Linked DNA regions of Homo sapiens: region 2 is linked to region 1. A link means that fine-mapping ties the variant in region 1 to the expression of a gene that starts in the linked region. Tissue or cell type: monocytes. Region 1 holds a variant in brackets; the other region holds the start of a gene. All regions are shown on one strand. Distances are from middle to middle.

Region 1 (8,184 bases):
CACGCCTGTAATCCCATCACTTTAGGAGGCTGAGGTGGGTGGATCACTTGAGGTCAGGAGTTCAAGACCAGCCTGGCTAACATGGTGAAACCCTGTCTCTACTAAAAATACAGAAATTACTGGGTATGGTGGTGCATGCTTGTAATTCCAGCTACTCGGGAGGCTGAGGCGTGAGAATCGCTTGAACCTGGGAGGTGGAGGTTGCAGTGAGTCTAGATGGCACCACTGCCATCCTGGGCAGCCTAGGTGACAGAGCAAGACTCCATCTCAGAAAAAAAAAAGAAAGAAAGAAAATCTCCAGCATATAACAATTGTGGATAATGTCAGGGCTGAATCAGTGGATGTCATCTAATAATAATAATAATAATAATAATAATAATAATAATAATAATAAAGCTTTTAATTTCTCAGTGCTTAGTATTGACCTGCTTCTTCTCCAGAATTCTTCATATTAGTAGATTTACAACCCAAGCCTGATCTGGGGATCATTCTTGATTATTCTCTCTCACCATTCCCCTGCCATTACTACCACACATGCATTTTTAGTGACAGTTATTATAGGTTTGGTCTCTTGAAAGCTCTTGTTTTTCTTTTTAGCTTACAAAGACTAAAAAGTGAATCTTCAAATTCCCAGCCTCCCTTACAGCTAGTAATAGCCATTTAGCACAATTTCTGGCCCCAGTGATACAAGGTAAAATTCTTGTAATCTTAGAAACATTATTCTTTTTTTTGAGACGGAGTCTTGTTCTGTCACCCAGGCTGGAATGCAATGGCACGATAGTGGCTCACTGTGACCTCTGCTGCCTGAGTTCAAGCGATTCTCCTGCCTCAGCCTCCCAAGTAGCTGGGATTACAGGCACCTGCCACAATGCCCAGCTAATTTTTGTATTTTTAGTAGAGACGGGGTTTCACCATCTTGGCCAGGCTGGTCTTGAACTCCTGACCTCCTGATCCACCTGCCCTCTGCCTCCCAAAGTGCAGGGATTACAGGCATGAACCACTGCATAGAAACATAATTCTAAGATGAGAGTTAAATAGGTTCAAATTAGAATACAATAGATTGGGGGCATGTGCCCAAGTTTCATTTAACTCAGTGAGGGAACCAGTAGGATGAAAAAGTTAGTTGAAATGATAATATTAAAGACTTGGTTATTGTTTTTTATAATGAATGGGGGAAAAAGGAATGCTGAGATAAGATTGCTAAATTAGATACAAAACTAGTCAGTTCTATAGGGCAATGAAAGTATAATCTTTAAAATTACCCTTTCTACTGGTCAGAAAAGAGAATTGTCACACTTCATCCATTTTATTTGTTAGCCTCTAGCTATAAAATTGTTTGTTATGTAGATATGTGAGCTCCAAGCCATAGTGAATACAGTGTGCAACAAAATTACTTTCCCTGGAGAATTAGATGACTGTTAGGCAGCCTTTTTAAACAGTGCCCTAACATGACATTAAAAGGTCATGCAGCTATCGCTTAACCTTATTTCCAAGTTTTGAATGTTCTCCTTGATAGCTGCAATAATGAATAACTCTGAACTTTACTCAGAGTTAAAGCTTTTTCCCTTCCTAGCATTAGTCTGGCTACCTGCAATGGCAGAGAGCTCTTCTTTCCTCTTGCACTAGACCAGAATAAAGGGGTACAAAAACAAAACCTCCCTTCACTCTCTGCCAAGCTGTGGTTGGGGTCTAGCAATCTAGGCAGCAGAATTAACAGCAGAATTAACAGCAGGATGGCATCAGATACTACTGGATAATGTTAACTATGCTGAAGAACAAATATGCTTATATGCTAAATACCAGACTGTAATGTTGTGGTGATTTCTGGGAAAAAGGAAAACTATAATAAAGTGAGAATAAATAAAATGAAAAAAATTTTTAAGAGAAAAAAGGATAAAGATACAATAGGAATTAACATTTAATATGTGCAAAGTATTGTATCCCATTATAAACTGTTGTACCTCCCTAAAATATGTGGCCAGTTGTACAATCTAAGATAACTCTAAAATATTACTTGGTAATTGGAATTGGATTTTATTTTTGTGAATTAAAAACTCACTAATGAGCCTCACCCTCACAAAATTTCCACAAAACTAAGTACTTGGTTGATTTGAAATAATTTAAGGTTAAAAGTTGCTAAACATTCCAACCTTCAAAATAAGTATTCAAAATTTGCAAATCCAAGAAATTTACTGTCAGTTATTTTCATTTCCACTCAGTCTTTATAAATCCTTGTTTGTGTTTTTTCCACATAGAATAACCTCTTACCATTTGAAATTTAGATTGTTATAGTTGAAGTTTATTTTTCTCCCCATTTTTTAGGCCACAGGAAATGGAGTCTGAAATAAAGCCACTGTATCTAAAACATTTATTTAATGGTAAAACTTGATGATTAATAGTATTATTAGCGTTTTAAAGACTATATGTTTAGAGTTTGAAGTAAAGCTCCAGTGTTAATTTAACTTACTTTTCAAGGCTTAACGTGTTCTCATCTAAAAACAATGATGTCCAAAATTTCTGTTTTCTACTGTAAGTATTATGTATAATAAAATAGGTAGTAAATCTATTCTAATGTGTTCTACTTATTGTCTGCAGAGGGACTGAAACTGGGCTGACCCTTTTGATTTCCAAGCTCAGCGTTTTGGTGTAAGGCGGCCAAAGAAGGATGCGGAGCCCAGCACTGTGAAGCCTACAAAAACATTGATGCGCTGGCTTGGGGATTTGAATTTGAACATCTTTCACACTAAGTTCAGACTCATGAAACCAATCTTCAGATGCTCTGTAAACCACATAATAAAGAGTTTGGAAATTATATTTTGTTTTTGAAGGCCCACGTGCAAAACTTGAGAGCCTCAAGTCCAAGCCAGTTGTGGCAATTCTAGCCTACTTTTTTTTTATATTCAAGTGTGTTGTAGGGAAGGAGGAGAATAAGTCTGCTTTCTTGAATATTATGCCTAATTAATTACGTATAAAATACTTTTACCAAAGTTCTATGCAAGGTAGAAGACTTACAGATGGCATGAAAAAGATAAAGTCTTTTCCATGTTTTTTTTTTTTTTTTTTTTTTTTTTTGAGACAGAGTTTCACTCTGGTCGCCCAGGCTGGAGTGCAGTGGGCCAGTGTCGCCTCACGGCAACCTCCGCCTCCCAGGTTCAAGTGCTTCTCCTGCCTCAGCCTCCTGAGTATCTGGGACTACAGGTCCATGCCACCACACCCAGCTGATTTTGTATTTCTAGTAGAGACATGGTTTCGCTATTTTGTCCAGGCTGCTCTCGAACTCCTGACCTCAGGTTATCTGTTCCCCACGGCATCCCAAAGTGCTGGGATTACAGGCGTGAACTACCGTGCTTGGCCTCTGTGTACTTCTTTTTTGTTGTTATTGTTTTTGAGATGGAGTTTCACTCTTGTCATACAGGCTGGAGTGCAGTGGCGCCATCTCAGCTCACTGCAACCTCTGTCTCCTGGGTTCAAGCGATTCTCATGCCTCAGCCTCCCAAGTAGCTGGGATTACAGGTGTGCACCACCACGCCCAGCTAATTTTTGTATTTTTAGTAAAGACAGGGTTTCACCATGTTGGCCAGGCTGGTCTCGAACTCCTAACCTCAGGTGATCTACCCACTTCAGTCTCCCAAAGCGCTGGGATTACAGGTGTGAGCCACCGTACCTGGCCCATGTACTTCTTACTTAGTTTTTCTTCCCGCGTCTTATGTTTACATTTGCAATTATGTCTTCTTCTTTCAACAAATATTACAGGTTTTCATAATCTCAAATATTTGTTTTTAGAGCATGATGTAATGTTCCTTTGCATTAGGTACACTGATTGTGGGTTTCCAACAAAAAGTTTTCAGGTCTAAAAATGATCACATCATGCAGTATACCCAGGAATCAAACCTGCACATCTATCCCCTAAGTCTAAAAATGAAAGTTGAAAAAAATAAAAATTATATAAGAAAAAAATTATCACAGTGTTTTATAAAATAAGAAAGCAGACCACGCGTGGTGACTGAGGCTTGTAATCCCAGCACTTTAGGAGGCCAAGGCAGGCGGATTGCTTTAGCTCAGGAGTTTGAGGCCAGCCTGGCCGAAATGGTGAAACTCTGTCTCTACAAACACACACACACACACACGGTGAAACTCTGTCTCTACA[A/AAC]ACACACACACACACACACACACACACACACAAATTTAGCCAGGCATGGTGGCACATGCCTGTAGTCCCAGCTACTCGGGAGGCTGAGGTGGGAGGATTGCTTGAGCTTGGGAGGCAGAGGCTGCGGTGAGCGAAGATCACACCACTGCACTCCAGCCTGGGCGCCAGAGCAAGACTCTGTCTACAAAAAACAACAAACAGAAACAGCAATTTGCCAGGTAAGCCTTTTATGTTGCCTTTGATAGTTTTATAGATCCTTGGGATTTTTGCTCACTTAGGTTTATGATTGAATGTGTATCCCATCTAACTGTGTACTTGATATTTGCTTTTAAAACAAACTCCTGTTAGAAGTAAATGTTGAAAGAGAGGGCTAGGTTGTTTTTTTTATATTCATTCAGTCATTGATTCATTTATTTATTTATTCAGGGTCTTGGCTGTGTTACCTAGGCTGGAGTGTGAGAGTATGATCATGGCTCACTGCAGCCTAGACCTCTTGGATTCAAATGATGCTCCCACTTCAGCCTCCCAAGTAGCTGGGACCACAGGTGCACACCACCATGTCCAGCTAATTTTTAGATTTTTTTGTAGAGACATGGTCTTTCTGTGTTGCCCCGGCTGGTCTCGTACTCCTGGCTTCAAGCAATGGCCCCACCTTGGCCTCCCAAAATGAAGATTACAAGTGTGAGCCACTGTGCCTAATTGATTTTTTTATTGGAAATTTTGATACTGTTACGTTGTCACTGAGGCAGACAACTTAAAAATAATCTTGAGTATCATTCTGTGCCGATGTTAGAATTTAATATGCTGTTCGTAGGCCAGGCTCAGTAGCTCACGCCTGTAATCTCAGCACTTTGGGACGCCAAAAGCAGGAGGATCTCTTGAGCCCCCAGGAGTTTGAGACAAGCCTGGGCAGCATAAAGAGACCCCCATCTCTAAAAAAAAAAAAATAGAAAAATTAGCCAGACATGATGATGCCAACCTGTAGTCCTGGCTACTTGGGAAGCTGAGGTAGGAGGATCGCTTGAGCCCAGGAATTTGAGGCTGCAGTGAACTATGATTACACCACTGTACTCCAGCCAGGGTGACAGAGCAAGACCCTATCTCTAAAACTATTTTTAAAAATAAAACAATATGTTGTTCATATTATCCTAATGTAGTGTTTTACTGAATAGAATTCCTTAAAGGATTCTTTTCCCCAAGGATATTAACTCAAGGTAAATTATAATAGGATTGCAGATAAATTAAGCATCTTTATCTTTGATTACAGAGATATTTAGCATATGACTATAGATAATTTCCCCTTCATATTTTCTTGGGCTTCTAGTATTTATGTATCAAGAAAATTATTTCCTTATGTTTGAAATGGTGACATTTCTGAAATGTACCAGCAGAGGATACAGGGATTTTTGTTTGTTTTTCATTTTCTTATTTACTGAAGAAATAAAGGCATTTTAGTTTATAAATGGACTGTTTCTTTTTTCCAGGAAAACTAATATTCATAATTATGGGAAAACCGTGGTCTCTTCAAAAGGGCATAATAAAATGTAGATATTAGACATTATTTCAAATCGTTTTTTGTTATTTGTAGATTAATTAAAACAGTAACCATACCTCTGGAAGACAGAATAACAGAAGTAGTTTGACTAAATGGAGTTTGAAGTAGTGCATTACTTCTCTGGATTTGTTCTTAATTTCAAGCTTGTATTTATCCATATGAATAGTACTTTTGATGGATCAAATTATGAATAAAACTCTCACTTTCGAGAGGTATAATGCTTTCTGGGATAAAAGTTAAATCTACTGAAAGAATCATGTAAACAAAATCAAAAGCAAGAGGTAATTTAATGGAGAAGAATTTTAAAAAGATTTAAAATATGTTCTGGTGGAAAACACTGTGGACCACAGTAAGGAGACCTGCGTTCTCATGCCAATTTGTTCCTCCCAAGCTGTTTTCCTCTCCATTTTCTTCATCAGCTGAGCTTCCTGATACCAGGAAGCTGATGAAGCTTAAGCTTCAGGGCCCCTGCCAAGGCCCTGGGAGGGTCCCTAGCATGGGGCTTACATGGTCATATGCTTTTGTAACACCAAGGTGCAGGGCCAGAGGTCTTACCACAATGTGAATCTGTCCTAGGTTGCCTGGCATTGGAAGTTAAATGGGTATTAGAGGAGAAACAGGGTTTGAAATGTATAGAGCTGGCCGGGCGCAGTGGCTCATGCCTGTAAACCCAGCACTTTGGGAGGCAGAGGCAGGCAGATCACTTGAGGTCAGCAATTCAAGACCAGCCTGGCCAACATGGTGAAACCCTGTCTCTACTAAAAATACAAAAATTAGCCAGGCATGGTGGTGTGCGCCTGTAGTCCTGGCTACTTGGGAAGCTGAGATAGGAGAATTGCTTGAACCTGAGAGGTGGAGGTTGCAGTGAGCCGAGATCATGCCACTGCCCTGCAGCCTGGGTGACAGAGTGAGACCCTGTCTCAAAAAAAAAAAAAAAAAAGTAAAAGTACCTAGTAGAACGTAATCTGTAGAAAATGTCAAATAATCAGATACGAAAAATTGGAAAAATTGTTAGCAGAGGATTTGGGTCTCATCAATACCTAGCACAACCCTGCAGCAGTAATACAAATAGTGTACCTACATAGCTGTGTAAAGACATACTTGTGAATTTTGTATCCTATAATTAAAAAAAAATTATCAACTATGCCAGAGGAAGGACTGAATTTATATATATATAAAAAAAGATATTACAAAGTCATACAGTGAAGTGACAAAGAGTATGCATCCAAAAAAGTTGGAAAAAATAATATATAGATATGTCAAGCAGTTAATAAAAATAGAATGTTATTTTTCTGGATTTTGTTATATTTCTGCTGTGTCAAGTAAAATTTATAATTTGTAATTTCTGTTACCATTGCACATAAATATTCACATTTAAAAGTACCTGACTTTGGCTGGGCGCGGTGGCTCACGCCTGTAATCCCAGCACTTTGGGAGGCTGAGGCGGGTGGATCACGAGGTCAGGAGATGGAGACCATCCTGGCTAACACAGTGAAACCCCGTCTCTACTAAAAATACAAAAAAATTAGCCGGGCGTTGTGGCGGCTGCCTGTAGTCCCAGCTACTTGGGAGGCTGAGGCAGGAGAATGGCGTGAACCCAAGAGGCAGAGCTTGCAGTGAGCCAAGATTGCGCCACTGCACTCCAGCCTGGGCGACAGAACGAGACTCCGTCTCAAAAAAAAAAAAAAAAAAGTACCTGACTTTGTATTCTTTTTTCTTAGTGGGTCCTTCAAATTGTATAAGCTTTAGGCCCCACAAAACCTAGTATTACCCAGCTTGTTGTATAATGAAGAGGTTAAATTATATTCAGGGATTAAAATGAAGTAAGAAGTCATGAAAATGATTTCATTCCTGAAATATCAATATAGATAATTCCATCATGTTTGGGTGAAATATCTATAAAACTAACACACTTTTAATAATTCTGACTTTCTGCTGTGATAATTCCAGTGGGTTGTTATGCTAACAGTCTCTCTTTTCTATGCCTCATCAAAGACCTCTTCTAAAGGAGGGGATAAAGGAGGGAGAAAACCCTATCCTTTCACGTGGAAAAGTCGTATTACCCCCTAAGCTTTAGTTTCTTCCTCTAAAAAATAAAGTTAGAAACCTCTCCCTGAGATCTGAAATATCACGGTTGAATTTCTGATGTTCCTGGATCCAAATGCCTAGTTTTTAGTTAAAGATAAAACTCAAATTGATAATATTTCCTTGTTAGCATAGGTACAAATTCTATGGAGACATTGATTAAAATACAAGACTAGCCAGGTAAAGCGGCTCATGGTTGTAATCCTAGCTCTTTGGGAGGCTGAGGTGGGAGGGTCACTTGAGGCCAGGAGTTCATGACAAGCCCGGGCAACATAGTGCAACCCTGTCTCTACAAAAATAAAATTTAAAAATTAGCTGGGCATAGTGGCACACACCTGTAGTCCGAGCTACTGGGGAGGCTGAGGCAGTAGGATCACTTGATCCCAGGAGTTTGAGG
Region 2 (8,184 bases), 51 kb before region 1:
CTTTTCTTTCTCAACCAGAGTGGATTCCGTTGCTTGTAACTAACTGCCTGACCTAATCAAGCTGAGATCTGAAAGATGAGTCAGTCGTGGGAAGAGCTGTCAGGGTGGATCAGTAATCTGAGCAGAGGGCACTGAAGAGTGTTGGCTCAAGGAACTGAGAAGAGGATAGTGTGGTGGGAATTTGGTAGAAATCAGGAGAATGATAGTTGATGAGGTTAGAGAGGGAGGCACAGGGTTTAGAACCTGAGGGCTCAGGCCATGGTGAGAAGTTTATGGTTTATGTAAAGTATAATGAAAGTTAACATATGATGGGCAGAGGATGCATGATCTGATTAATGTTTTGCCTCTTAATGTGGAGCACAGATTAGAAGGGGGACAAGAGAGAACATGGGAAGAGTATTAAGGTTAAATCGTATTGAAATTGCATTTCATGTCTGTTCCCTTATGAGACCACTGAAGCCGAGAACCATGTCTAATTCAAAAGTGCACAGCAGGTGCTCAGTGTATTAAAATGAATGAATACACTAATGCACTGAATTTTTGTAACAACTCTGATAGGCAAGTCTTCTGCCCATTCCATAGATGAAAAATCTGGTAAAGAGATCCAAGCATTAGGCACTGTCCTAAGAATGTTACATATATTAACATATTAATCTTAGAACAACCTCATGAGGTATATGCTGTATTATCCCCACTTTACAGATGAAACAACTGAGGCACAGAGAGTTTATGTAATAAGCTCTAGGTTACTCAGCTAATAAGTGGTAGTGCTAGGATCTGAATCCAGGCAGTCTGGCCTCACAGGCTCCACTCTTAACCACTACACAGACTGCCTCATATGGATACTGATGAATTCTAAACACACACACACACATATATATAAAGATACACCTTTAAATGAGTTAGAAGAGTAACTACTATTCATAGAATAAAAATCAAATATAACTTTCAAACCACTAAAGCGGGAAAAAAACTGGAAAAAAAGACTGTCAAACCAAAGGCAGTAAAGAGAACAGGAAGCATGATACATAGAAAAAAATGAGTGAGATATATCTATGAATAAGTTAAGTGTTAGTATTAACAGGGAGAAATCTCAAATGAGGGGGACATGTACATGCTTTTAAAAAACATACCGAAAACAAAATAGAGTTAATAACTGCATTAGCTTTATAGTCAGAGAAACTCTTGCACACGTGTACCAGGAAACATGTACAAGAAAATTTACTGTCAGCAGTTGGTAACAGCAAAAAAAAAACCAAACAACAAAACAAAAAAACTGGGGCAAAAAAATAACCTGTGTTGGCATGGAATGGAGCAACAGCAGCTCTCCTACATTGCTGATGGAGGGTAAGTTAGTACAACCACTGGAGAACAATTTGGCAATATCAAAGTTGAACTGTGCAAACCCTTCCACCTTGCAATTCCATTTCTAGACATTATCCTAAGGAAATTCTTACCATATGTCTAAGAAGCTGTGTGCAAGAACTAACTCATGTTATAATGACAGAAATCAGGAATCATGAAATTGCTAGCAACTGGAGAATGGATAAATGGTGGTACAATTATACAATGGAATACTATTCAGCAGTTAAAATAAAACTAGAACTACAGGAATCATCCTGGATAAATTTTACATACATAATTATAGGTGGCAAAAGTAAGTGACATGCATATCATTTATATTAGGTTTAAAAAGCATAAAACAGTACTTTATGCTACTTAACATCGCTACATGTATTTGGAGCATACATAAAAGCTTTCATGGGAATGACAGATACCAAATTCAATGAAGTAGTTAATTTCAGAGAGGAAGAGAGGGAGAATGAGATTGCAGGCAGTTTCACAAGGAGCTCTAACTGAATGTTAAAATCTGAAGCAAATAAGAGAAAATGTTAAAATGGGATAAAGCTAGATGGTTGGTATACAAGTGTTCATTATATTATTTTCTGTAACTGTACATTCTGGTAATATTTCATATTAAACATTTTAAAGGAAAGTTAAGCTTCCAAGATTCTATAAAAAGAACAAAATAAACCCAAAGAGATAAGAAGAAATTAATGAAGGCATACATTAATGAAAGAGAAATTACTTTTAAGACAGATTTTATCTATAAAACCAAAAGCTGGTTTGATAAATATGATCAAGAAAAAGACTCCAATACAATATATAAGAATATATATATAAGAATATATAAGAATGGTTGAGAACAATATGAGATTTTTTTAAATGTTAGAAAATATAGCTGAAATACTTTTTTTTTAAAGATGGAGTCTCGCTCTGTCCCCCAGGCTGGAGTGCAGTAGCAAAATCTCAGCTCACTGCAAGCTCCGCCTCCCGGGTTCAAGCCATTCTCCTGCTTCAGCCTCCTGAGTAGCTGGGACTACAGGCGCCCGCCACCATGCCCGGCTAATTTTTCATTGTCGTATTTTTAGTAGAGACGGAGTTTCACCGTGTTAGCCAGGATGGTCTCGATCTCCTGACCTCGTGATCCGCCCTCCTCGGCCTCCCAATGTGCTGGGATCACAGGCGTGAGTCACCGCACCCGGCCAATACTTTTCTAGAAAAAACTAATTTTCTCAAGAAGCAAAAGAAAAAATTCTAGGTATCAATAACGATGGACGCTATATAAAAAACAAAACTATCCATTAAGATGGCACCACACCCAGAAGGCTTTAAAGATGAGTTCTTCAAAACCTAAGAAATGTATCATTCACACATGCTATGTCTATTCCAGGTCATACAAAAATAAGTTAACCTGTCTGACTCCTAGCACAACCTGATACCAAAACTAGACAAGGACAGCAAAAGAAAACCATAAGCCAATCTAACTTAGGTGCATACATGAAAATCCAAAATTAACTACACAGCAAATTGCATCCAGCAATATATTGAAAAAATAAGATACCAGGATTCTAAGTTTGGCTCACCATTAGAAAATCTATTATTGTAGTTATTTTATTGTAGAGTAATGGAAAAAAGGCCATACAATCATCTCAAAGACTGATACTGAAAATACTTGGTAAAACTTAGTCATTTGCTGATTAAAAAAAAAACCGATATGGTAAACTACGAAAAGAACATAATTTGCCTATACACCCACACACACACACACCATAAACCTGCAGAAGATATCTTGAATGAAACCTAAGATGCAATCCAAAATAACTCCTGGTAAGAAATAAGTACCTCCGGCTACTATTCAGTGTTGCACTGGATTCTTGGGAAAAGCCAAAATTGTTCTTTACAGATAAATTCTTACCTACAAATCAAAGAGGACTGCCTGTCAAATTTTTAGAATACGAACGTTTAGTGAAGTGTCCAGATAGATCAACAATCAAAAGCCATTCTTATACAAGGATACTAATGGATTAATAGTCTATTAGTAAAAACAAACTACAATAACAAAAATAGCTATGAAAAAATGTTAAATGCGCACAACACCAAGCGAACTGCAACGCTTTACCTGAAAAACAAAGGGAGAACTGAATTAATTTAAAAAAATAGCCACATTGCTGGACGGGAATTCTCAATATTGTACTAGTATCCAATCTCGGCAAATCTACAAAAATATGGAATCCCAAACAAATCCCTGGAAATCTTTGCCATTTGGGCGCCAATCTACTAAAGAAATCGGCCCCAGGGTGTGAGGTTTCTCACATGTGCGTGAAAACGCTTCGAGAGGGGTGCAGCCGCGGACACAAAAACCGTGGCTTGAGTCCCCGCGCCCCTCCCCTCCCCTCCCCTCCCTCCCTCCAGTCCAGCAGCTCTTGCCTAAGGCTCCCGCGACCGGAAGAGTCGCTTCCGCTCCCGCCCCGCTCTGTGGCGTAGGCCGGACATTTCTAGTCGACTGTTGCGCGTGCGCGCGCTGTGACGTTCCCTACGCGGTCGGGCGTTGGGTTTCGCGGCGCTCGCCGCACTGGTTGTTCAGCACCTTCGGTCCGGTTGAGGTTGTCAAGTCGGACCAAACAGGTTGTTTCTCTGCAGTTTCCAGTAAGTGACCGTTCCAGCCGGGGCTGTGGCTAGAGTGTGAAGGCAAACCGGTAGAAGCCGCGCCGCCATTTTCTTCCCACCTCACTCTTTCCTCAATCTCCCTTCGGTCACTCCGAGGGGACTGTTGGTAGCCCCCCTCTGCCCGGTCCCCCGCTAATGAGGCCGCTCCCAAGCTCTGAGTTTCCCCAAAAGATGTGTCCTTTGTCATGAAAGCTCTCGTAGTATTTAAGTGCTAATACTCGACGGCCGCCGACTTCTCAGATGCACCCTGGAGGGTGTGCTCTTGGCCTGACACTTATTAGCCCTTCCGCTTCCTACAGTTGTGATGGGCCCTCAGATACTCACCAGGAAAATGTGATGCCCGCACCACCACTTCTTACTCCAACTTTCTTTGTAATTATGTCCTCTGTTTCAGAATCCTACTGCCGCGGAACAAAAATGTACCAAGGACCATTCCACTTAACGTCCCTCCCTTCCTTCTCAAACCCTTAAGAGTGCCTTAAGAGTAAGGTACTGACCTAAGTGCTTTACATGCATTTTATTTAATCTTCCCACGCAGTCCTTAAGTAGGCAGACATGAGAAAATTGAGGCACAGAAAAGTTTAATAATTTGCTCAAGGCAACATAGGTTGGATGTGGTAGGGCTGAAATTTGGATTTATTGTGTAGCTTACTCAATCTGGTGTTGTTATCATTCATTCCTTTCTCTTTCCCAAATACTGAGTATTCCTTTTTTTCTTAGTTGCTTCTACAGAGGAATTTTTTTCCTTAATGCTGTTTAGAGGGTTCTTCTTGAGAAATTTGGGTTCTGTCTGAAAACCCTTTTCTCAGAGCTCTCCTTACACAGACGCTTAAGTGTTGTTTTTCCAAATCTAAGCTCTAAACTTAATAATATTTTGCATATCCAAAATGTGCTCATGCTTCCTTAAAAAAGTACCCCTAAACCAGTACCCACCAACCAGCCCCCTTCCTCTACCTCAATATGACAATGGTTATCACTATTCTCAGCAAACATTTGGGCAGCTAGCTTATGTAAGACAATAAAGGTAATTGGGGTTTTGAAGAACTCTGAGGTTTAGTTCCGACCTGAAGGAGAAACATGAAAAGGCCTTCATAAAAAGGCCACATAAAATAGCAGATAAATCCCATCTCAGTTGCACAGAATACAAATTGTATAAGAGCAACTTTGGACAAATCAGGTAAAAGTGCTAGATGTGTTTACTCATCTGTAAAATGTTAAGGTTAGGCTAGGTCACTAAAATATTATAAATCTAATTTCAGAGAGAGGAGTGATAACTCTGTACTCACTATTGAGGGAGGTGGAGGCTGTAGTTTGTTTTTAGTGTTTTTTTTTGTTTTTTTGTTTGTTTGTTTTTGAGACAGGGTCTCACTCTGTCGCCCAGGCTGGAGTGCAGTGGCGTGATCAGAGCTCACTGCAGCCTCCACCTCAGCCTCCTGAGTATCTGGGACTACAGGTGTGCACCACCATGCCCGGCTAATTTTTGTATTTTTTGTAGAGACAGGGTCTCACTATGTTGCCCAGGCTGGTCTTGAACTCCTGGCTTCAAGCAGTCCTCCCACCTTGGCCTCCCAAAGTGCTGGGATTACAGGTATGAGCCACTGCACCCCACCTGTAGTGTGTTCTCGATACAGAGACAAGGTTGAAGGATTCAGAGTACAATTTTCTCATTTTGAATATCTGATAAAATCTGTAGACCCTCCATCAACAGAGGATTGGGTAAAGAAAATGTGGTGGTGTGTGTGTGTGTGTGTGTGTGTGTGTGTATGCCATGGAATACTATTTAGCCATTAAAAAGTCATGTTTTTTCAGCAACATGGATAGAACTGGAAGCCATTATCCTAACCGAAATAACTCAGAAAGCCAAATATCACATGTTCTCACTTAAAGCAGGAGCTGAGAAGTGATGGGTACACGTACATATAGACACTGCAGACTACAAAAGGTGGGAGGATGGGAGGGGGGTGAGGGTTGAAAAGTTACATACTGGGAACAATGCTCACAATTTTGGTAATGGGTACACTAAAAGCCCAGGCTTCACCACTGTGCAATATGTACATCTAAGAATTCTGCACTCGTACCCTCTAAATATATAAAAATTATGTTTTTCTGAGACAGTCTTGCTTTGTCACCCAGGCTGGTGCAATCTTGGCTCACTGCAACATCTGCCTCCTGGGTTCAAGTGATTCTCATGCTTCAGCCTCCCGAGTAGCTGGGACTATAGGTGTGCACCATCACACCTGACTAATTTTTGTAACTTTAGTAGATATGGGTTTTGCTACGTTGGCCTGGGTGGTCTCAAACTCCTGGCCTAAGCAATCAACCCACCCCGGCCTTCCCAAGTGCTAGGATTATAGGTGTGAGCCATGAGACCCAGCCTAAAAATAAATTTTTTAAAAAAGCTGTAGATCTTGCTCTGGAAATAAAATTCACATCCATACAACATTTTATGCTTAATTTTAGGAGATTTGTTGACTACTCCTTCTCAAATTTAAATGTTAAAAACCCTTGATTTAGGGAAAAAGTATTATTCAGAACACCAGAACTAAGCCAGATGTGGAAGGCCTTTATCTTGTGGGCAGTGTTGAACCATTTGAGGTCTAAAAAGATAAATCTGGTAGCAGTATGAAAAATGCATGACAGTGGGAAAAAGCAACGAGACTAGTTAAGTGGCAGGGGAATCATTTAGGTAGGAGACTGTGCCAAGCAGTATTGGGAATGAAGAGAAATCAGAAGAAGTATTGACAAGGACAAATCAAATATCTGACTGGATATGGAATTGAAAGAGGAAATCAATGATAACAAGGTTCGAGGATCAGTTATGCTGCAGGTCTACCTTGTCTTCAGTATTTTATTGAAGTCATTCCTATAACATCTGTGCTAGTGCTTGCTTCAGTAGCACATATACTAAAATTGGAATGATACAGAGAAGATCAGCAAATAAAAATTTAAGTACAAATTTAAAAAAGAAACAAACATACGTGCTCTAAGAGCACTCCCAACCCAACAGACATTAAAAAGGATGAGGTAATACACGAACACCTCTGTACTTATAAATTTGATAATGTGAGAGAAATGGGCCACTATCAAAATTACCAAAACTCACCCAGGACAAAATAGGTAAATGAAATAGTCCTATAAGTATTAAAGAAATAGAATTTGTGAGAAAAACGAACAAACAAAACGACAACCAAAAAACAAACCCTGGCAAGAGTCTTCTTGCCAGGAAGAAAAAAAAAGAATAATAACTTTAAAAAAAAAGAAAGCTCCAGGCCGAGATAATTTCACTGGCAAATTTCACCAAACATTCAAGGATGAAAAAATAACAGTTCTCTTACAAGCTCTTTGGATCGTAGAAAAGGAAGAAACACTTAACTCATTTTATGAAGGCAGCATTTTCTGGATACCAAAACCAGATAAAGACAATACAAAAAACAAATCTAAAAGTTAAAATCCCTCATGAACAAAGATACAACTTCCTCAAAAAATAATAGCAAATTGAATTCAGCAGTATATTAGAAAAATAGTACATTGTGACGAAGTCTCATCCCAGGAATTCAATATTTGAACATCATATAATCCTCCATATTAACAGACTAAATAAGAAAAACTACATGATGCTATTAATAGATGCAGAAAAACACTTAAGAAGATTCAGCATTCATTCATTATTCTTAAAACTCAGCAAACAAGTAATAGAAGAGAACCTAATAAAAGTCATCGACAAAACCCATAGCTATTGTTATATTTAATGGTGAAAGACTGAATGCTCTCTACCCTCCAAGATTGGGAACTAGGCAAGGATGTCTCTTCCACTACTGTTTAATATTTTACTGGAAATCCTAGCAATTATAGTAAGTCAAGAAAATGGGAGAAAAAGCATTCTGATTGGAAAAGAAGAAATAAAATTATATTTGCAGATGACAATTATATAGTAAGTCTCAAGAAGTCTATTTAAAAAGCTGGTAGAGCTAACAAATTTAGCAGGTTACAGGATACAAGCTTAACATACATAATCCTATTTCTACACTAACAATGAACCGTTGGAAACTGACCCACTCTCCTCCCTCACAAATGAAATACTTAGGCAGAAATCTAACAAAGTATGTGTGGGATTTGGAAACTGACCCAATCTCCTCCCTCACAAATGAAATACTTAGGTAGAAATCTAACAAA

Direction of the effects. Alleles are on the strand shown, and positions count from the first base shown. SD is a standard deviation of normalised expression in the study named.
With allele A in place of AAC in region 1, the expression in monocytes of the gene that starts at base 3,820 in region 2 is lower (moderate effect, 0.54 SD a copy in Fairfax 2014).

The links. PIP is the estimated chance that this variant, and not a neighbour inherited with it, causes the effect.
Region 2: it holds the start of LINC00467, and the variant in region 1 is the best candidate, but not a certain one, in a credible set for the expression of LINC00467 in monocytes (Fairfax 2014, PIP 0.58).

Annotation. Positions count from the first base shown.
Region 1 is chr1:211,429,724-211,437,907 of GRCh38, forward strand. LINC00467 (long intergenic non-protein coding RNA 467) reads left to right here. Exons shown (of 6, transcript NR_026761.2): 6 at 2,596-2,812. Among named protein-coding and RNA genes, the nearest start is that of LINC00467, 51 kb to the left of the region's middle. The variant A/AAC (reference allele first, on the strand shown) is at 4,148.
Region 2 is chr1:211,378,936-211,387,119 of GRCh38, forward strand. It overlaps LINC00467 (long intergenic non-protein coding RNA 467), which reads left to right and starts at 3,820. Exons shown (of 6, transcript NR_026761.2): 1 at 3,820-3,990. LOC124904504 (a long non-coding RNA gene) reads right to left here and starts at 3,809. Exons shown (of 2, transcript XR_007066868.1): 1 at 3,658-3,809; 2 at 1-3,463. It overlaps LOC107985259 (a long non-coding RNA gene), which reads right to left and starts at 5,349. Exons shown (of 2, transcript XR_001738447.1): 1 at 4,336-5,349; 2 at 3,891-4,019. RefSeq lists an enhancer at 3,933-4,002.